Homo sapiens: one gene and its partners. The protein of the gene in region 2 purifies or fractionates together with the protein of the main gene of each other region. This does not show direct contact. Each region holds a gene or a part of one and is shown on either strand. Other genes may lie near its edges.

What was found. Proteins that work in one complex are often made in the same cells at the same time.
Region 1: the proteins of PSG3 (region 2) and DUSP12 purify together in Homo sapiens (co-immunoprecipitation; one large-scale study listed by IntAct). This does not show direct contact.
Region 3: the proteins of PSG3 (region 2) and ANKRD46 purify together in Homo sapiens (affinity purification with mass spectrometry; 3 studies listed by BioGRID and IntAct, with this or other methods). This does not show direct contact.
Region 4: the proteins of PSG3 (region 2) and NGLY1 purify together in Homo sapiens (co-immunoprecipitation; one large-scale study listed by IntAct). This does not show direct contact.

Annotation. Positions count from the first base shown.
Region 1 is NC_000001.11:161,755,262-161,757,738, reverse strand, and holds the end of DUSP12 (dual specificity protein phosphatase 12), read right to left. Parts: intron 954-2,477; coding exon 792-953; 3' UTR 501-791; downstream 1-500. UniProt on the Homo sapiens protein: Dual specificity phosphatase; can dephosphorylate both phosphotyrosine and phosphoserine or phosphothreonine residues. Can dephosphorylate glucokinase (in vitro).
Region 2 is NC_000019.10:42,733,982-42,737,481, reverse strand, and holds part of PSG3 (pregnancy-specific beta-1-glycoprotein 3 precursor), read left to right. Parts: intron 1-3,500.
Region 3 is NC_000008.11:100,532,260-100,535,759, forward strand, and holds part of ANKRD46 (ankyrin repeat domain-containing protein 46), read right to left. Parts: intron 1,053-3,500; 5' UTR 950-1,052; intron 202-949; exon of another isoform or gene 97-201; intron 1-96.
Region 4 is NC_000003.12:25,759,444-25,762,943, forward strand, and holds part of NGLY1 (peptide-N(4)-(N-acetyl-beta-glucosaminyl)asparagine amidase), read right to left. Parts: intron 1-3,500. UniProt on the Homo sapiens protein: Specifically deglycosylates the denatured form of N-linked glycoproteins in the cytoplasm and assists their proteasome-mediated degradation. Cleaves the beta-aspartyl-glucosamine (GlcNAc) of the glycan and the amide side chain of Asn, converting Asn to Asp.

The DNA.
Region 1 (2,477 bases), on a different chromosome or scaffold from region 2:
TTCTGATTCTTGTAAATGTTCAAATATCTAATTAGGTCCAATTGTAATTATTAATAATGAGTAAAATAATTCTAGTTTCTATACATCAGGTTAAAAAACTAATCTGGACGTATTACCTTTTCCAATACTCACATATTGGGCTACAAAATGACTTGATATATAGTAACTCTACATTTGTTTTCTTCATCATTAGAAACACATCTAACATTTATGTATTTCTTTATGTAGATCACTTCAAAAGGGATCTCAAACACTTTTCTAAAAATATAGATAATTGGGATTACTGAACAGTAATAGGAAAATTGCCTTTTAATCAGCGTTTTACTAATGGCCTTTCCATTTCCAAGAAAAAAATCCAGACATGTATGGGTTTACTAATGTCCCTTAAAAGAAAGAAAGTGAAATAATTCCAAAATATGTCCAAACAAATCTGCTTTATGTGTCTGGAAATAAAAGAATACCCATTTAAATATAATAGTTTCAAATTTTTGTACATAATTTTGTCTATACAGACCTTAAGATCATATAACATTCCAACAATCAAAACTTTTAAAAATATATGAAACACAGACAGTATCTGGTTATAAAAGATTTTAATATCAAATAAAATGTACATGATCAAAAGGCTTTGATTGCCATGTAAAGCATAGTTTCCAGGTTACATCAAGTGATTTTATCTTCTCCCATTTCAAATGAAATGTTGAAAGCACAAACAATCTGCCATGAATGATAAGAAGCAAAGGCAGCACATATCATCTGCAAGTTTCTTCCCAAGCTATAAAATATCATGTTCATATTTTTCCTGTTTGTGATCCCAAAACAGGCAATATTTTCATTTCATCCACTCTATTCTTATGTATTTGAAAAGCAGGTGTTATCCACCTACCACAAGAGCACTGTTCACCATACCAGTTGAAGGAACCCAACTTGGCACTGCATTTTGGGCAAAGAAGCTGAAATAAAGCAAATGTGTTACTTTATTCATTCACTTTTATACAAAACAAATCATTATCTTTGGCAATCAATATAGGATATAAAAACAAGACACGATCCCCACGTTGAGTTTATAATCTAATCAGTGAGATAAAATGCATTGGAAATTTACTGTAATAGATAGTAGACTACAATTATCTCATAGGAAGAATGTTGTATTCAGGGAGCTTGAAGGGAGAAAAGTGAAGCTTGAGATTTGATTAAGGAAGGTTTCATGGATGTGGCATATATATATATATATATATATATATATATATATATAGCTTTTAAATCAGTTTGTAATTTAGGACTTCAAATGAAAATGATCACGGCTAAAGTATAGAAAAGCATGTTAGGATTTTCATGCTGTATTACTAACTGTGTGTATTGACAGCATATAAGTCAGATTCTTAGCTATTTAAAGACAAACTGATATTCCAGGAAAATAGGTAAATCAAAAAAGCCTAATAAGGCAACTGCATTTTCTTCTAATGTAGTTAGTTATAGCATTAATTTTTATGTTTAGCTCTTTGATTTATGCATGGTATAAGGTAAGAGTTTTTATTTTTAATCTTGAGCTATAGAAAACTAGACATAAAACTCAGAAGCAGGCTGAGTGTGGTGGCTCATACCTGTAATTCCCAGCACTTTGGGAGGCCAAGGCGGGCAGATCACCTGAGGTCAGGAGTTTGAGACCAGCCTGGTCAACATGGTGAAACCCCGTCTCTACTAAAAACACAAAAATTAGTTGGGCATGGTGGCGGATGCCTGTAATCACAGCTACCTGGGAGGCTGAAGCAGGAGAATATTTGAACCCAGAAGGCGGAGGTTGCAGTGAGCCAAGATCACACCACTGCACTCCAGCCTGGGCAACAGAGCAAGACTCCGTCTCAAAAAAAAGAAATTCAGAAGCCATAAATAAAAAAACTAACAAATTTTATTATGTAAATATCCTTCATTTTAATATGACAAAACATAAAAAATCTGATAAGCAATAGACTGAAGAAAATAGTTGCAATATATTAGATGAACTATTAACATCTAGAATATATAGAGGTCCTACAAATGAGTAAGAAAGAGACAAAACCCATAGGCAAATGGGCCTAGGAATATGAAAGCAATTTATAGAAAAGAAAACAGTAAATGGCTGGTAAATATATAAAGATGGTGGTTGATGACTATTTTCATAAAATTCCAATTAAACATTTTAGGATTAACATTTTTTACCCCACAGACTGACAAAATGTTACCAGTTTTATAGTATCTATTATGTCAAGGATATGGAGTAACGGGTACATGCATTCAGTTACTGAAAACCAAATTTGTATGGGCATTTTGAATATCAGCCTGGAATATCACTAATATTTAAAATACATTCTTCGAGCCAGGAATTCCACTTCTAGGTACATATTCTACAGAAAAAAATCAAATATGTATACAAATAAGTATGCACAGGATTTAGAATCTTACATAAAAATGTATTTAACTTGGCTGGAGTGTGTGTG
Region 2 (3,500 bases):
GTTTCCCAAAGTGTCCATGTCACTGTCACAAGAGGATCAAGGAGAGGACCTTGTTTTCTTTCCCCACTCACACCCTACACCACCATAGGCCCAGCGAGACAGACACACTCAGGAGCTCTTACATAACAAATGAAGAAATGGAATGAAGAAATGAATGATCCAAAACCTCTTTAGAGACTGAATTTGCATGCAGAATCCTAGGAGGTTCTAGCCACACCTGTCCCTTGTCCTTCAGAGGCTGACACCCACGTTTCATCCCCCCACTACCTCTTGACCCTAAAGCAACCCCACCTCATGTAACTCTGAAGCTCTTTGGCCACCGGAGGGTTCTCAGGGCTCCTTGGTCCTGGACTGTGGAACTGGGGGCACCTGGTCCCTGGGGTCTCTGAAGTCAGTGTAGCCCTCACTGCTCACTGCCATGGTGTCTCTGCCTCTCTCTGCTTCTCTGTGTCCCTCATCTTCCTCCCACTTCATTCTGACTGGCAAGCCCTGTCCTGCACAGCTTCTTCCCCCACCCCTAGGTCTTCCCCAGACACTCCCTCTAACTAGGCTGACTGTTCAGTTCCCTTCCCGCTAACACTGTGGCCTGGCCCACCTCCCAGGAAATAGGAAAGGTGCAGAAATCACCTGGAGTTGCCACTCCTGCCAGGCTTCCTCTAGAGCCAATGTCCCCAGGTCACTAAGAGAATGAGTTTCCACTGTATTCCCATCCAGGGCTCTTTCCCTTTGTGAGGCTGACCTGTGGACAAGACCATGGGACAGGGATAGGCAGTTTCTCCATCCACTCTTATAATTGCCAGACAAGTTCTTCTGGCCTCCTGCACACACACACACACACACACACACACACACACACACACACACACACAAATGTATTGAAATGGTGGTTTGTAGTAAAGAAAGATTTTAATGACTCCAAGTCTGCCAAACAGGAGGATGGAGGTTTATTATTACTCAAATCAGCCTCCCCAGTGGATCAGGGCTTAGAGATTTTCAAGGATAGTTTCAGGGGCACAGGACTAAAAAATGAGTACTGCTGATTGGTGATGGAATCATGCGGGCGGAGGGAAATGATCTGTTTGTGCTTGAATCCACCTCTAGGTAGGGACCACATGACGGGCTGAGCCATTAGTCATAGGTATGGATGAGGTCAGCCGGTTGCCAGAATGCAAAAGAATGAGAAACATCTCAAAAGACCAATCTCACGTTCTACAATAGTGATGTTATCTATAGGAGCAATTAGTTACAAATTTTGTAAACTCTGGCCCAACGACATTTGAGCAGTCAAGGATTATAAAAACTCTGCCAACATTTTAGCAGAATTCAGTTCCCTCCTATAATCTTAATCTCATGGTCTTTCACTAGTTTTACAAAGGCAGTCCCTGGGCAAAGTAAGGGTGTTACTTTTACAGAGGAACAATTATCATTCTTGCTTCAAAGTTAAACAATAAACTAAATTCCTCCCAAGGTTAGCCTGGCCTATGCCCAGGAATGAGTGAGGACAGCCAGCCTGAGACTAGATACCAGATGGACTCAGCCATGCTAGTTTGCTGTCACTGTTGTAATCTTAGCACTGACTCACCAGAGTGTCAGAGGCTGGACAGGCCTGCAGTCCCCAAACCCCATGGGCTCATTTCACCCATTTCACTTGTGACTCCATCCTCAACCTGCTATAAAGCTCACATTCTCCGGTCACTTCCTAGAGACTTCTGGCTTCCTGTCAGGCATATAACAAGCTTGAAATTTGTTCCTCGGTTCTAACACTAAGTAAAAAGCTGAACAAACTCAAAAGTCAACAACTCATTAAAATCCCTCAGAGATGGCTGGGCACAGTGGCTCATGCCTATAATCCCAGGACTTTGGGAGGCCGAGGCAGGCACAAGGTCAGGAGATGGAGACCATCCTGGCTAACATGGTGAAACCCCGTCTCTACTAAAAATACAAAAAATTAGCTGGACGTGGTGGCAGGCGCTTGTAGTCCCAGCTATTTGGGAGGCCAAGCCAGGAGAATGGCATGAACCCAGGAGGTGGAGCTTGCAGTGAGATGAGATCATGCCACTGCACTCCAGCCTAGGTGACAGAGCGAGACTCTGTCTCAGAAAAAAAAAAATGTTTTTAGAGACATGAAGAATGCTTTTGATACTTACTGGTAGACTGAACATAGCTGAGGAAAGAATCCCTAGCTTGAGGATATGTCAATAGAAACTTCCAAAACTGAAACAGGAAAGTTCAACAAGAGTGGGGAAAAAAAGTGGAACAACATTTCAACTTCATATTTAATATTTTGATTTGACAATAGCAATTTTTAAATTTTGTAGCTGTGGGACAACTACAAAGGCTATAAGATACACGTAATGGGAATACTGGTGGTTTTGGGGACCAGGTGGAGGTGGCCAGGTGGGTGCTATCTGATGGCTTTACTGCCTGTGCCACATACAACTGTTTCCTCATGATGATGCCGTTTTCATAAGTTGGAGTTCTGCGTGTGGGGAGACACACAAACCATTGGCATCTCACTTAGACTCTTTCTAATTCACACAAACTTAAACACTAGTGGTGTTTCCTGAGCTTAAGAGAAAATGAAGAAAGCATTTCACATACCTGTTTTGGGGTCCTCCCCATTTTTCCTAACTCTGCACAGAAATTAGAAGCAGGTTCTTTCTATATTTACTAACATAACACACATCACTTCTTTTAGTTTGGCATCCTTCCTCCCTTTATGCAATTGACACACTAACCAGTTCTGTCCTTTTAACGGGACTCTCTCTACTTAAGGAGTTGCTAATTTCAAATCACCTTTGGCATCTTTCTTTGAGCATAATGTGATCCTGCTGGAATTCACGGCACACCTAAACCTTATTTTGGTCTCAAGAGAAATACTACTACCAGCAATTGATCTTAGATGTTTGGATCATCAGTAAAAATTTCCACTTATGAAAACATTTCAATGTTTCCTCCAAATTTTTTGCTGTTGTTGTTACTAGAGTCAGAACATAAGGTCTAAACTCCTGACAAATTTTTATGGGAAAATTACAGTATTACAAATTGAGCATCGGAAATCCAGAAATCCACAATCTGAAATGCTCCAAAACTCAACCCTTCTGACCACTGATGTGATGCTAAAAAGAAGTGCTCACTGGCGCATTGTGGATTTTAAATTTTTCAGATTTGGGATGCTAAACCAGTACATGTACTGTAAATATTCCAAAATAAAAAAAATTAGAAATCCAAAACACTTGGTTTTAAGCTTTCTGAATAAGGAGCACTTTATCTGTATGAACTATAGGCATGAAGCTGTACAGGAGATCTCTAGAACCTCCTCATCCTGCATAACTGAAACCGCACACCCACAGAACAACGCCCTATTCCCCTGATCCCAGCTCCTGGAAACTACTATTCTACACTCTGATTCACTCTGGAATCCACTGATATCAGGTACATAGAGTAGTCAAATTCAGAATCAGAGAGTAGAATGTCTAATGAGAGAAAGTATCTGCAAG
Region 3 (3,500 bases), on a different chromosome or scaffold from region 2:
AGTTCGAAACTAGCCTGGGCAACATAGCGAGAGACCCTGTCTCTATAAAATATTTTAAAATTAGCCAGGCATGGTGGCGCGCGCCTTTCGTCCCACCTGTTCGGGACGCTGAGGTGAGAGGATCACTTGAGCCCGGGAGGTCGAGGTTGCGATGAGCTGTGATTGAGCCACAGCACTCCAGCCTGGGCATCAAAGTGAGGCCTGTCTCAAAAAAACAAACCAAACCAAACCAAACCAAACCAACAAACAGAAAAACTCAATGAGAAGAATTTACTCAATAAAATAGTCAAGAATTCTTTTGCGAGGGTAATCTAAATATTTTCCCTTACAGCAAGGGTGTCCAACATTTCGGCTTCCCTGGGTCACAATGGAAGAAGAATTGTCTTGGGCTACACATAAAATACATAATGATAGCTGATAAGCTTTAAAAAATTGCAAAAAAAATCTCAGAATGTTTTTTAAAAGTTTATGAATTTGTGTTGGGCTACATTCAAAGCTGTTCTGGGCTGCAGGTTGGACAAGCTTGCACAGTATTGAATCATAAAAATGGAAAAGCTATCATAAACCTTTTTCAAAATGAAATGCCACATATCAAGTGCTTTTCAAAAGGTAATGTGTTTTGGTTAAATTTTTAAAAATAGATAATTTAAAAAATCTAGTTGGTGTTTTTGATTCAGACACAGTAAGAATTCTTGTGGTTTGCAGACTAGGATACTTCTGAGTGTTGGCTCAGCAAGAAATACAAGTCTCTGTGTCTATTTTTCAGGTGAGAACAAGTGTGTATTTTGTCAGTTTCTCTGTGTCCCTGAGCAACTACTAAACTTAATCCCACATTTAATAAGCCCAATGATAGTTATTTTTCATCTTGATCACAGAACTGAATCTGTCCTAAAGCAGTTCACTGAAGGTTTCACATCTTGTGAGGAAGTCCACAGTAGTAAATACTCACGTAAGCCTTAAGATTAGATCTTTTCGTTCAGTGGTCACTCAGCAGTTTCTCTGAATTCTCAAGAAGGTTCAACAAAAATATTCTGTAATGTGCTGGCAAGGATCTACAGTAAATAGAAAATTAAGTTATAATAGAAGTGTGGTGAGAAAAAGAACTCACTGTTCTATTAAATACAGACAGGTTACTGAGCCTGAAGAAATTCTCTAGAAAATCTGTAGGTGAGGCATCAACTTGTGAGGCCAGAAAAATATCTGACGAGTAACAAAGTAGTGAAAAGGAAGCAAAGAAGGGCTTAATAGAAGCTGCTCTGTGGCCCACAAACAAGAAAGCAAGACAGAAAGATAAAAGAATAAGAATCAAATTATGTGCCATCACTAAAGAACAAATTGGGCTCCGAAAATTCACTCTCAGTCATTACTTGGAATTCAGAATGCATATTTTTCACATTATAAATGGAGGCTAGATCCCAGATTAGTCCACAAAAGCATTTTTATAAATAAAATACTATTCATAGTGGGAAAAAATAAGTTTAAAAAGCCAATACTTATATTTAAACCAAACAGGATACATTTAAGAAAAAGTATTTCTAATCTACCTTGAATGCTGGTACTTAAATCTCTTTAAATCTGTTCCCTTCCTTGTCTTTTCAGTGTGAAATAAAAGCTGGCCCAAGTCTATCTGTAGTCTTCTTTACATAGCCTGACGCTGCTCCCCCACCCAGGCTGCACTTCTCTGCACTGAGAGAGACTACGAGGGCACCCTGTCTGCCCACTCAGCTCTTCTCTGGAAGGACCGTGGAAGCAGGGTCATGGGCAGGCAGTAAGGACCACAAAAATAGCAATATTAGTTCATGAAACAAACATTCACTGTGTGCCTGCAATGTGCCAGATACCATGCTATCAAGTCCAAATCCCAAATTCCTGGTCAGGGTGAAATACAGGTTAACTTTTTACCGATCATCCTTGTTCATTGTTATCAAATCCCTGTGAACAAATTTATATAGGGAAATAATTAATGGTATTTTACAAAGCTCCATTTACAATATGTAAGTCAGGTTGTATCATAAAGGCTATCAGTGCTAGGCTGGAACTGATGACAATAGCTGACAAACTGTACCTGAGGACCAGTCCCACACGAGGGTCAGTAAATATCACGAAGACATGATAACACACAAAACATCTACGCTCCTCATTTCCTACTTCTTTTGTGATACCACAGTATCAATTTAGACGAACTTCATATCACGGAGCCACTTACCTTGATTTCCTTAAACAAATATTATGTATTCACCCAAAGCCTAATATTTTTCCTCTCTTGTCCTGACCTCTAGAGCTGAGTCTTTAACGACTAGAGCCTGTCTCTAATGTATGATTTGGCTTTAATTTTCAATGTTAATTAAAATGGTGCAAGTGGGTTATTCTGGATGTGGTAGAGCTCACATTAGGGAAAAAGAAAAAATTTTGTTTTTCATCTAGAGATGGAATTATAGTTCATATGGTCATGCCCCCAAATAATCCTAATGTTCTCTTAAATCCACAAGAAGGACAATGCTTCTGCAATTTTTTCTTTTTTTATTTTTGAGACAGAGTCTCACTCTGTCGCTGGTGCCGGAGTGCAGTGGTGCAATCTCGACTCACCTGCAGAGGCCTCCGCGTTCAAGCAATTATCCTGCCTCAGCCTCCCCAGTAGCTGGGACTACAGCCATGTGCCACCATGCCTGGGTAATTTTTGTATTTTTAGTGGAGATGAGGTTTCACCATGTTGGCTAGGCAGGTCTTGAACTCCTGACCTCAGGTGATCCACCCACCTTGGCCTCCCAAAGTGCTGGGATTACAGGCGTGAGCCACCGCAACCAGCCTGCCATTTTCTTTGGATATTACAATGGCCCATAAGAAAATACACTTGAACAAATTACAGATTTGTATGATTTCATAATAATATTATACAAATTCATTAGACTAAATTACTAGAAACCTGCCAAGAAAACTTCCAAGACCTCAGTTAGACCTTACTCACTAGACTCTGTTAATAGCTTCCCTAAGAAGTCATAAAGTGAATACAAATCAGAGCACATATTTAACGATTGTCCAATGGGTGAAGAGGACTAAAGACTTTTTTAAATTAAACTTTTTGAGATAATTATAAATTCATATGCAGTTGTAAGAAATAACACAGAGTGATCCTGTGCACCCTTTATCCAGTTTCCCCCAATGGTAACATCTTGCCAAACTATAGTACAACATCACAACCAGGATACTGACATTGATATAGTCAAGATACAGAACATTTCCATCACCATGAAAAATCTCTCATATGTTGCCCTTTTTAGCTATTCCTGCTTCCCTCCCATGCCAGTCTCTCCTTAACACCTAGAAAACACTACCTAGTCTTCCACTTCTTTAATTCTGTCATTTCAAGAATGTTGTATAAATGGAGCCATACAGCACATACAGGAACCTTTTGGGATTGGTCTTTTCACTCAGTATAATTCTCTGGAGATTCATCCAGGGTAGCTGTGTGTATCCATAGTTTGTCCCTTTTTTATCCATAG
Region 4 (3,500 bases), on a different chromosome or scaffold from region 2:
CATCCGGAGTATTTTTATTTTCAATTTAATTCTTTTCAATCTGGAAATTACCTCATTCATTGTAGTTTTAATGGCACTCAAAATATTTTAAACAATAAAGTTTATATTCTTGCCTTATTTCTTTACATATTCATTGGCACAACTCTGAAAAAACTAAGTCATAAAAATAGAAAGTTGCTGATTACATGGTGATTACAGCAGCTGGGTAACCATGTACTAATGCTACATAAGGCAGCAGTTAATTGAGAGACTAAAGTTACTTAGAGTACAAATGGAAGTTTAAAATGTGAAATCTGTTGGTTTTAGATCAAAGAGATTTTTCCTTCACTAATCATACTTCCAATTATTTTGATTTCTGATATGAGATATATTTAAGACTTCATAAGAAAAAAGTACAATGTGTATAATTTTGTCAAATCGTGGTAATTAATCAATGGAAGTTAGATTAGCAAATTCACTTCTTTAGTTAAAAAAACACACACACACACACACACACACACAACAAATCAAGGCTTGAGCCTACTTGCCCTCTCTTTAATTTTATGCAACCCTTTATTTTGAGGCTTTAAAATTTAGAACCTGTTTTTAGACATAAAAGTTTTGTTATTTTAAATATGTTTTAATCAACTTGTGACTTCAATAAACTTATTTAAAGAAAAACTTTTCTATTTATAAAGGTAATACATGTTGCTTCAAAAAATATTTCAGAAAATACTCAATAGTATAAATAATATGAAAGCACCCATAATTTCATCACTCAGAGTACATTATGGTTAAGATGTTTGTGTATGGCCTTCCAAACCTTTAAAAAAATGAACATATATATATATGTATGTGTGTGTGTATGTTTCTAATAAGAAAAATCAAAATATTACACATATACAGACAACATATGTTGTTTAATTTTGGAATTCTCAGTTTACCTTTTTTCCATATAATAATGTTATTCATGTCAAAACAGATCACATCTTCATTTTTAACATACGCTAAGTATGCTGATATAAGGACACAATGTAATCCCCTATCAGAGGGCATGCAAGTATTAACTTTTAAGAGTGGTAGGTTCATGAAAAAGAAAGTGGATGTTTAAATCTTATGTTCAAATAGGTTTCTTCTCTTACAAAGCTAGCACACAGGCCGGGCACGGTGGCTCACGCCTGTAACCCAGCACTTTGGGAGGCCAAGGTGGGCGGATCACCTGAGGTTGGGAGTTCGAGACCAGCCTGACCAACATGGAGAAACCCCGTCTCTACTAAAAATACTAAAACTAGCCAGACGTGGTGGCACATGCCTGTAATCCCAGCTACTACGGAGGCTGAGGCAGGAGAATCACTTGAACCCAGGAGGCAGAAGTTGCGGTGAGCCGAGATCACGCCATTGCACTCCAGCCTGGGCAACAAGAGTGAAACTCTGTCTCAAAAAAAAAAAAAAAAAAAAAAAAAAAAAAAAAAAAAAAAAAAAAAAAAAAAAAAAAAAAGCTCGCACACAGATCTAGACTAAGACTAAGAGGTTGCCTTATTGTTGGTTTATGAGATAAAATTAGTTTTAAAATTAACTAGTTCGTTTTATTATTTATCATTATCTGATAATATATGACTTTTATAATTTCAATGAAATAATCACAAATTATGATAATTGGTTTAAATAAACACATACCCATATATAAACTGGCAGTAATTTCTAGAGTGATAAAGAGTTGATGAAAAGTTCCTAACAATTTCATATACATACTCAAAGTAGTCATGTGCTAAATAAAAGCATACATTTAGATTAGCTGAGTAAAAAGTACTAAATGTATATTTTAAGCATATTATACTTCAGAATCACATTTTCAACCGAGATAAAGTTGTGAAGCTGGAAACATAATGCTTCTAACATTCTGAGGTACCATGTCATTGAAAAATTGTCCTTGCTGTTTTGAATCTGCTTTTGGAAGGCAATGGGTATAAAAATAAAGGATTATCAGAAAGTTACTTCCATTAGGAACACTAAACACTTAGCATGTACAACCAGCAAGTTTGAAAATCAATTAAGTCATCAGGCAAATGCAAATTAAAACCAAAATGAACTACTACTTAACAACCACTAAAATGGGTATACTAAAAAAGACAGTAACAATGGTTGGTGAGGATACTAAGAAACGGGAAGCCTCACATATTTCTGATGATAAAGTAAAATGGTACAATTTTGAAAAACAGCTTGGTAATTTCTTAAAAACATAAATATAAACTTACCATACAACCCAGTGGTTCCACTCCTAGGAATCTACTCAAGAGAAATAAAAACATATGTCTACACAAAAATTTGTATGTGAATGTTCACAGCAGCATTATTCATAATAGGCAAACATGGGAAACAACCCAAATGTCCATCAACTGATGAATGGAAACAATATGTGGCATATCCTTAAAATGGAATATTATTCAACAATAAAAAGGAACAAAATACTGATATATCCTGCAATACGAAGAACTTCAAAAATGTTACACAAAGAGCTAGAAACAAAAGATTACATACTATAATTCTATTAACATAAAATGTCCAGAAAAAGTAGCAAGATTAACTTTCTAACAATCACCACCACTATCATCATTTATTGAGTATCAATATATTCCAGTATTTTGTATCTTAAAAGCTTACTGGCAAACGTCAACATCAGTGACTATCATCTTAACTTATACATCGACATTTTACTTGATATAGTTTTAACCAAAAAAAAAAAAGTTATAAGTTCACTAGGACTTATCTAGTTTATACACAGGTTAAATGCTTTAAAAAATATCTCTCTGGCTCCCTGACTTTGGTACATTTTAATTCTCAGTATCTCCACTCAAAATGGGCAAGGTAGAAGAAAACTGTCAAATTCTGTAGTATAGCAACTAATGATGAAAGCATAATTAACAAAATACTTTAAAGAAATACATATATTCCAGTGATCCACGAATAACCAAGAGTTGTCTATGAAAAACAAGATTCATTCTAATTTCTCTCAACTTCAACACAGAAGATATTTTGTGTGAAGGACTAGAGTAGTAAGAATTGATATACACTAGCCTACTAATAGCATACACCTTTGAGAAAATTTATTTTCTTCTACACTAGAATGTGTTTTGCCAACAGAATGACATTCTGTTTTTAGTGTAGTGTTTAGAGGCTTTCTGGTGACGGACAGGATTTTAAAGACCTGGAACTATATCTGAATTGTAAGATTAAGAACTTAAAAAAAGGGCTGGGTGTGGTGGTGCACATCTGTAATCCAGCACTTTGGGAGGCCAAGGCAGGTGGATCACTTGAGGTCAGGAGTTTTGAGACCAGCCTGGCACACATGGAGAAACCCCGTCTCTACTAAAAACACAAAAAATTAGCCAAGTGTGGTGGCAGGTGCCTATAATCCCAGCTACTCGGGAGGCGCAGGCTATAGAATCTCTTGAACCCAGGAGGTGGGGGTTGCAGTGAGCCAAGATCGTGCCATTGCATTCTAGCCTGGGCAACAAGAGTGA